Linked DNA regions of Homo sapiens. The protein of the gene in region 1 purifies or fractionates together with the protein of each later gene. This does not show direct contact. Each region holds a gene or a part of one and is shown on either strand. Other genes may lie near its edges.

The links. The genes of interacting proteins can lie anywhere in the genome.
Region 2: the proteins of EDNRA (region 1) and LMBR1 purify together in Homo sapiens (affinity purification with mass spectrometry; 2 studies listed by BioGRID and IntAct, with this or other methods). This does not show direct contact.

Annotation. Positions count from the first base shown.
Region 1 is NC_000004.12:147,487,178-147,491,447, forward strand, and holds part of EDNRA (endothelin-1 receptor isoform a precursor), read left to right. Parts: intron 1-4,270. UniProt on the Homo sapiens protein: Receptor for endothelin-1. Mediates its action by association with G proteins that activate a phosphatidylinositol-calcium second messenger system. The rank order of binding affinities for ET-A is: ET1 > ET2 >> ET3.
Region 2 is NC_000007.14:156,890,105-156,895,104, forward strand, and holds the start of LMBR1 (limb region 1 protein homolog), read right to left. Parts: upstream 3,080-5,000; 5' UTR 2,900-3,079; coding exon of another isoform or gene 2,890-2,899; coding exon 2,824-2,889; intron 1-2,823. UniProt on the Homo sapiens protein: Putative membrane receptor.

The DNA of each region.
Region 1 (4,270 bases):
CCCCCATGAGCCAGACACCTCCCACCAGTTCCTACCTCCAACATTGGGGATTACATTTCAACATGAGATTTGGAGGGGACAAACATCCAAACTATATCAGAGACTACTTAGACCCAAAACAAACTAAAGCCGAAGGAATTACATATTCCATATTTGGTCTAGTTGTTGGGAGGGAAAAATTGCTGCAAGAATTCAGATATACTAAAATTCAAATGAAATGGCCTGATCTATGCCAGATTTTATGAAATGTGTTTATTCTAAACCCAAGAAGAGTATTTTCCTCAGCCTTGTTTTTTCCTTCTATGTATTATGCATAGAAAGCAACTATTCTAAGAGGTAATATTCTGAAATATTACTTTAAATGGCAAGTTTTGTCAATTGAAGATACAACACATTTTAAGTAAAACAGTAATCTCTCAGTTTCCAATAAGTACACTTAAGCTGTGGTTAAATTATATTACCCTAGCAGAAAAATCAGTGGTCTGATAATATAGATGAAAACAATGGTTACAATTTTGACATTGCAAATAAAAACTTCCCAAAATTACACCAGTACACTGTTTCCAAAATTGAAGAGATTAGAGAACAAACAATCAAAAAATTACCATCTCTTTCCACAGGATAGCATAAATACATGTGTTTTCTATTAGAGCTTAAAATAGGAATTTAGAACTAAACTATGATGCAAAATTGAAAATGTGTAATTGATTTAAAATGTTTAGCATATGCTACATAACTTTAATCTTTTCTTTTAAAAAGTTTTCTCTTTATGATATACTATGTGCACACAACCACTTGACTTTCTCCTGACATTTCTCCTTAATGATAAATTGGAAAATTCAAATTTTGACTCTTCAGCCATCAGAGTGTGGAGTATCAAACATTGATTATTCAAACTTATGAACTAGTGAACCAACCCATCATGGCTCAAGAAAATAATTATCCATCTCTGCATTTATAACTCCCTGCTGCTGTTCACCCTGAAGCACACTATGTAGACTTGCCATGTGCAAAGCAGCTTCTTAGCCAATCAATATCCACAACTGCTGGGAAGGATACCTGCTTATCTCTTTGCGGTGCTACTGCCAATCACCAGACTAAACATCATTTCTATTCCATGGCAACGTTTTAAGTCAGACCATCTGGAATGTCTCCAGATTTGGTAAAAATGCAAATAAAACTTTGCTTTACATTCACCTAGCAATGAATAAAAATTAACATATTCTTATTTGACCATATTGTTCTCCCCTCCTGGGAATCCAATACTTTGTATACCTTACTGTAGTTCTAAATAATGTGGACAGTTTGACTGGTACTTTTACATCATAGGTAGGAGTACATTTGTGTAATTCCTGTTTTTCCAAAACTCGTAATGAGTCATTTAACTATCATTAATTTTAGAAAGTAAACCTTTAGGCTAAAAAAACAAATACTCTTTAGTTATTTCAATCTTTTTCCAGAGGAAAAGAGAAAAAAGCACTGGAGTGTGCTAAAAAGGCTCACAGTATTTAGGAGCAATCGCCACATCTTTCTGTCATCCTCTTCTCTAGGTCATGAGATCATACATGTTGCTATTCTTCTGACTTCTAAGCAGGATACTCAAGAGATCCTTCCAAGCAATGTGAGTCACAGGCCCCCATCCCTTTCCCCCATAGCTGCCTCCCATAGTAAAATTCTGTGGGAGTCTGTCACATATTAAACCTATAGATTCCTCTAACCATATCAAGTTCACTACCTCTGTATTGCAGGGCAAGGTAGCAGCTGTCCATCTCACTTTACCATTACATTTATGTAGCTATGAAAATAATGCATACAATTGGAGAATATTCAGTTAAAGGGATGTGTGAGCCTTCTTTATTTCCCTATTAGAAGGATTAGGTTGAAAGAAGAATAAATAGTTGAAAGTATCTAATATGCTCTTCAAAGAAAGATGAGTTTTGAATCACACCTATTTTTGTGTTTAACAATTATATTAATTGCTTTTCTTTTTTAATTTGTATAAATTTATGGGGTGCAAGTGTAGTTTTGTTACATGTATATATTGCATAGTGGTGAAGTCAAGGCTTTTAGGGTATCCATCACAAAAATAATATACATTGTACCCACTATGAAATTTCTCATCATCCACTCTTAGTTGCTTTTATGCTCAGTTCTAAGGTGTCTCCAGACAGACAACATTGCTTTGAGTCATATCAGAGTCAGCATAAGTGGAAGTAGACTATTTAAAGATTGTATTAATATCTGAGGCAAGCTAGAATTACTGATAAGACTGTAATAATGTTACAAGAAGAAGAAGAAGGCACTATAAAGTATTCTTCCTATTAACGTTTTATTCCCTTTCTCTCACTTTGAAAAAGATTGTACTGAAACGGTTTCATAGAGCAATGTAATATAAAACACAACTGAAAAGTAACATAACAGGTATCAAACAGCTGGGCTGTTTCGGATGTCATTAACCTGTGTAGCTGATGCTTGGTGGCTCTGGATGGCCTGTGGCATGGAAGGTGGGATGGGGTCATTCCACCCCTAAATTTTCAGAAATTTCTTAATTTCTTAATTGATCTCCCTATCTTCAGAGCTTCTTCCCCATAACATATCCGGGACTTTGCTTCCATCTGTCAAGTGCCACTGCTTCTAAAAAAGCACCCAGGAGCTCCCACCTGTCCCCCTTTTCCCCCATGTTTAGCAATCAAGGCCCTCCACACTTTGGCCATACTTCACCTCCTTCCTACTAATTCCCAAAATGCATGGCTCAGCTCTGTCAAAATGCTATCACTACCCCCAAGGAACATACTTTGCCCTAAATAACATTCTCAGAGAGACTGAATGTAGTCACCGAATTGCTGCTGCTGAAGCATTTACAGATCCTAGTTTGAAAAATGAGTTAGGCCTAGAATTATATATGTTGCATCTAACAGAAATAACCCAAAAGATGAAAAGAAGTTCCTATAGCCCTTGCTTACATACACTCACACACACACACACACACACACACACACACACACACACAACCTGATGATAAAAGAAACTCAGCAATCTAAGAAAGTAAAATGCAAGGCAGAAGGAACCAAGGCAAGCCAATGAATGCCAGTTGCCTTCTTGGTTTTGAAACACAATGGCCTTGCAAATGCTAATGTTGAAGAAAAAACTATTTCTAAGATTATCAAAGGATAACTGATTTTTAGTTGTTCAAAATAAGGATAATATTACTAATTGCAGTAGAAGATTGACAAAAGCAGGAAGGAGGAAGGGAAAGGAGTTAGCAGATTTTTTCATATACCCAAGCTTATAACCCATACTGCTGGTGGATTCATTCTTGTCAATAAATTACATTATCTGATATCCTAAATTTTCAAGAAAAACAAAAACTTAGCCAAGTAAATTAATCTGTACATAGGATATTTACATTTGTTAGAATGGCAAAATAGTTAAAACATTGTCTCCATGTTGGGAGACTGAAAATAACCCCTGATTACTAGATGACAAAATAGATAAGTATAGAATTTAATAATTATATTATTTAATGATTCATGAGATTACATGTATGCCATAGAGTGTTGTCCATAGGGAGATGGGTTATAATTTTGAACAGAGTGGAAGCCCTAAAAGTGATATTTGTGCATGAGCCAAGGCTTGGCACCATGTAGCTTCAGGATAACAGCTCCGCCATTATGCACACACAGACATTTCCATATATCACTGTACCTCGTCTCTTAAGCAGAAACAAGAATGCAGGGAGATGTATGTATGAGAGAGATGGAGTAAGGGAAAGAAGTAAGAGGTACAGTCCAATGGCTTGCCATAGACGCTTTTGACGTGCATAGCAGGGAGTTGATGCCGTGGATAATATGCCACGTAAATCACGTCTCCACTTAGCATGTGGCACAAAGCAGATCTGTGAGAACAACAGTGATAGAAGCCGGTAACTCTGTTGATTACTAATTTTGTCTACCCTAAGCAACCACCCCTTATTGAGGACAACAATGAAAAATAAACACATCTTATTTCTGCATGAAGTTACCACGAATATTTTGCAATGAAAAGTCAAGACTCTCAATATGTTGCTCTGGCAGAGGATCTGAACAATGTGGAAATGAGAGACATCCACATAGAGCCAGTTATCTCCATGTTCACACAGCCTTTGACATCTTGTGCAACTGGGATCCATCCTTCTGGGGCAGCTTTACAAAAGCTGCTTCTTGACATATCAAATCACCACAGCAAATTGTGTCTTAAAAATAAATTGTCACAACTTACAGATTAGATACCT
Region 2 (5,000 bases), on another chromosome or scaffold:
AGTCCTAAATAGTGCTGAAGCAATTGGACATTCCTGTGGGAGAAAAAAATATGACTCCTACCTTGCACCAGACACAAAAAAATAAATTCGAAATAGATTGCAAATTTAAATGAGAAGAGTAATTCAATAAAGCATTTAGAGAAAAGAAGAAGAGAACATCAGTCTTAGAGTAAGGAGAGATTTCTTAATCGGGACATTAAAAGTACTCAAAAAAATTTTAATAAATTGAACTATATTAAAATTAATAATTTCTGTTCATCAGAAGATATCATTAAAAGTGAAAGGCATCCACAGAGTGGGAAAGAAATATGTGCAGTATATATTTCTGACAAAGAAATCATATCCACCTGTATAACAATATAATACAAGTTATTCTGTAAAGACCTTGCAAATCAATATTAAAAAGATAAACTTAATTTTTAAATGGGGAAAAAAATTTGACCCTTCACAAGATTTCCAAATGGCTAATAAACAAACAGGTGCTCAAATTCATTAGTTATCAGGAAAATGCAAATTAAAATTATTTGTATGATGAACACTATAACACACTTGCTAGAATGACTAAAATTAAAAAGGACAGAAAATATCAAGTATTGATAAAGATGAGTAACAACCACACCTCTGAGACTGTCAGTACTGGCGGAAGTGTACACTGGTACAACCACTTTGGAAAATTGTTTTAAAGTATCTACTAAAGATGAACAAATGCACACTCTTTAACCTAGGGATTCCATTCCTAGGGCTATCCCCAACAGAAATGCACAAACATGTCCACCAAAAGCTATGTACAAAAAGTTCATAGCCAGCCCGGCGTGGTGGCTCATGCCTGTAATCCCAGCACTTTGGGAGGCCAAGGCAGGTGGATCACCTGAGGTCAGGAGTTCAAGGCCAGCCTGGCCAGCATGGAGAAACCCCGTCTCTAATAAAAATAGAAAAATTAGCTGGGTGTGGTGGTGTGTGCCTGTAATCCCAGCTATTCAGGAGGCTGAGGTAGGAGAATCACTTGAATCCCGGAGGCAGAGGTTGCAGTGAGCCGAGATTGTGCCACTGCACTCCAGCCTGGGAGACAGAGCGAGACTCCATCACAAAAAAAAAAAAAAAAAAAAAATATATATATATATATATATATACACACACACACACACACACACACACATATATACATACACATATATATACACATATATATATTCATAGCCAAAACCTAGAAACTACTGAAGTGCCCATCAACAGTAAAATGAAAAATAAATTGTGCTATAGTCACACAACTACTGCACCGAGAATGAATTATAACCACATACAACATGGAGAAATTTCACAAACATTGTACAAGAAACTGGACACAGAAGAGTATATACGGTAAGATTCCATTTACATAAAGTTCAAAACTAAGCAAAAACTAATCTATGATATTAGAAGCCAGGGCAACGTTTACCCTTGGTGGAGGAGAAAGTAATTGGAAGAGGGAAAGGAATCAGTCTCTGGGATCCTAGTAAAATTGTGTTTATTTATTTATTTTTTTATAATGGTAGAGATGGGGATTCACTATGTTGCCCAGGCTGACCAGTCTCAAACTCCTGGTGGATTCAGGAGTACACAGGCGTGTTTAGTATGAAATGATCTGAAGGGTACATGTATGATTACATGAACTTATCTCTGTGTATTTTAGCTTCAATTATAAAAATTACAACTAAATGTGTACCAAATTCCACTAACTCAAATTCCACCAGCTCAGACTTTATATGTCCTCTTTATTCAAAGTATGACTTCCAAAGTGATTCTCAATTTTCAAGATCAGTGAGTACACAAATTAGATAATTCTAAAGCAGAATTTTTTCACCTCAAACCAAGTGTGACTGAATCGTAGACAACTTAGGAGAGGCGTAAATATAAACATAAAAAATTGACATATTTTACAACAGTTATGAAAACACAGATAAACCCAATTACAATACATTCTAGAGCATCATGAAAAGATAAAAACATCAAAGTAGACTTTCCAAGGTCAAGTCCGCTTCCTGACTCCTGCCAACAGCACACATGGAACATGGGCCAAAAAAGAAGCTGCTTCCCTAAGAAGTTGCTTCCATAGCAAAATGGACTTTTGCTGAGGTCCTCACTCCCAAAAATAACCAATATTCTCATCCCAAACGGTAAGGTTTCGAACTCAACCCACGTGGGGGCTGGGGGAGATGAAAGAGGGATGGAAACGTGAGGCGCCAGGAGGGCAGGAGGTGTTGACCGGGACAAGGTAACCGGCCGGGTCCAAACGCGAGAGGCGGGCGGGCTCCGCGCAGCCCGGCCCTTCCCGGACCCGCCGGGCCCACCCAGGCTCTCCGGGACGCCTGCGCATCCACCTGCCTACCTGGCCTGGCGGCGGAGCGCGGGGGCGCGCACTGGCGGGGCCGCCGTCCACACCCCGAGGCGCGAGCCGCACACCCGCCCAGAGAGGAAGCCCCTGGGGTCCCAGAGCGCGGCGCGCACCGCAGCCCTCCCCGCGGGAAGGGAAGGGCAGCACCGAGGCCGCGGGGCGGGGGCGGGGTCGGGGCTCGAACGGAGGGAGCGCGAGGGGGCAGGGGAGGCAAGAGCGGAGCGGGGGGGCAGGCAGAGGAAGCGAAGGGGAGGGGAGGGGAGAGGAGAGGTGGGGAGGGAAGGGGAGGGGAGGGGAGAGGAGGGGTGGGGAGGGAGAGCGGCAGAGGCCGGGGCGGGAGGCGCGAGGCGAGGCCCGGAGGTGAGGGGTCCGGGGACCGGGGGCCCGGGGGCGGGGACGGAGGGCCCGGGCGGGCACGCGGGACTGTCAGGGCTGCCTCGGTCCCCACGCACCGTGGACTCCCGCACTTGGCTGTGGAAGTGCTGCTCCCGCGCCGACACCTCGTCCTGCCCTTCCATCCTCCTTCATGCCCGCCGCCGCGCCGCCCGCGTCCGCGTGCTCCGCCACACCATCGTCCGCCCGCCGCAGGGGCTCGGACAGCCGCGCCGGGGACCGGAGCCGGCACGGGCCCGCGAGCCGTGTTGGAACAGGTACCGCGACCACGACACCGGCCGTCGCCTCAGCAGCCTCAGACGAGCAGCTCTGACTAAGGGAGGGCGGGCGCCGCGCAGTCGGGGGCGGGGCGGGGGCGGGGCAGGGAGGGGAGGGGGCGGTGCAGGCATACGTCAGACGAAAGGCGCCGATGCGTCAGAAAAGCGCGCCTCGCGGTCTTCCGAGCTGCTGGGCCGGGAGGCGCTGAGGGGGCGGGGCCTTGAGGTCGCGGGGCGGGGCTCCGCCCACGCTCTCAGGGGCTACCCCAGTTAAGGAGGCGCTGTCCTGGCGTCGGATGGGGACGGGGAACGCGGCGAGGGCGCTGCGACCTCTGCCCACCTGGCCCGGCCGCAGTCTCGGAGTTCCTGTTCCTCACAGGAGCTAATTATTTATGACAGCTGCATGGTTCCCCTCCCCCAGTTACTCAGTGCTTGGCACTCGGCACCCCTTACTCAGCACTCAGTACCGCACTCGGCCTCAGGGGACCTGGGCAGAGGGAAGCAGGGAGTCTCCCGCGGAAACTCTTGCTCTGCCAAAGTAGGTTGAAAGGTCGGAAATCGGTGGTTTGGGGCCGGGCTTTGGGCGGAAACCCAGCTTCTCTGGGTCTGAGAAGGGTCTTGGGCTGCCCCACCTGGAAAACGCAGATAACCGAGCTCGCTAGACCCTTGCCAAGTCCTTCCGGTAGCTCGGTCACTAGGGTCAGTTTTATGACTCTCAGTGGACCCTAAACAGCACGTAATATATGTATTTTTCACCGCCAAATATATCAAACACAATAATTCACCCTCCGTTCCCTATTATCTTTCTTTTTGTTATAAAATTTGAATTTAAGGGAATGTTTATAATTTTACCTTAGGATTTATTTGGCTACGAGGAAGTCATTTAAATTGCTAGTGGCTGCGATTTTTGTTTTTGGCATCTTTGAGAATTCTTAGGAAGTGTGAAAATCTACAAATTGCTTTCAAATGTCATTTAGTTTTTGTTTTTGTTTTTTTTTTTTTTGAGACAGAGTTTCACTCTTGTCGCCCAGGCTGGAGTGCAATGGCGATCTCTGCTCACAACAACCTCTGCCTCTTGGGTTCAAGTGATTCTCCTGCCTCAGCCTCCCGAGTAGCTGGGATTACAGGCGCCCGCCACCACGCCCAGCTAATTTTTGTATTTTTAGTAGAGACGGGGTTTCACCACGTTGGCCAAGCTGTTCTTGAACTCCTGACCTCAGGTGATCCGCCCACCTCGTCCTCCCAAAGTGCTGGGATTACAGGCCTGAGCCACCGCGCCCGGCCGTTGTTTAGATTTTTATGAATCTAAATTTAACAGTCAATGAAGTTGTTGTAAAGTTCTTCAAAGACAAATATGTGGTAATTTAAACCTTGCCGTTTCTCTTCACAATTTTGAGTAGAGAAAATTTTTTCACAACTCAAACTTCTTATGGTGCTTGGCGAAGTTGGAGGCCCCGACACACGGTTTCTATGAGTTCACTATAGCTGAACATTGTGGTGGTGGGAGAACTTAGAGAACCTGAGGCTTGTTCTCAGCATGTGCCCTGCTGCCACAGGCTGATTGATCATAATCCAAGAACAACTGTCAACTGGTTAAATTCAACGTTCACCTTTATTTTTTAGAATGTCTTGGAGCCCTAAAGAACCTGGATAATTTCTGGGTTAATTCTCTCCAAATCAGAGGGCAAGCAGATTAGATTTTAAAGTGTATGGCATTTAAACACAGATTCCAGAAAGTGAATGCATGTAGTATTCCTCATCTTTTTAATGCAATACTCCAACCATCTAGACCTTTTGATTTTCTTTTATGCAATCATCCCTAGAGGTTTACCCACCACTGGTACTTGTAACACTTAACCCAGGGTAGTCAACTTCAACAATGGCCACGTACTCACCACTCCCTATACGCTCACCCTCTGCCATCTGGCTTTGTCCTTCCTCCCAGCAAGAAATGGACTCTACTTTCCAGCCCTGGAATC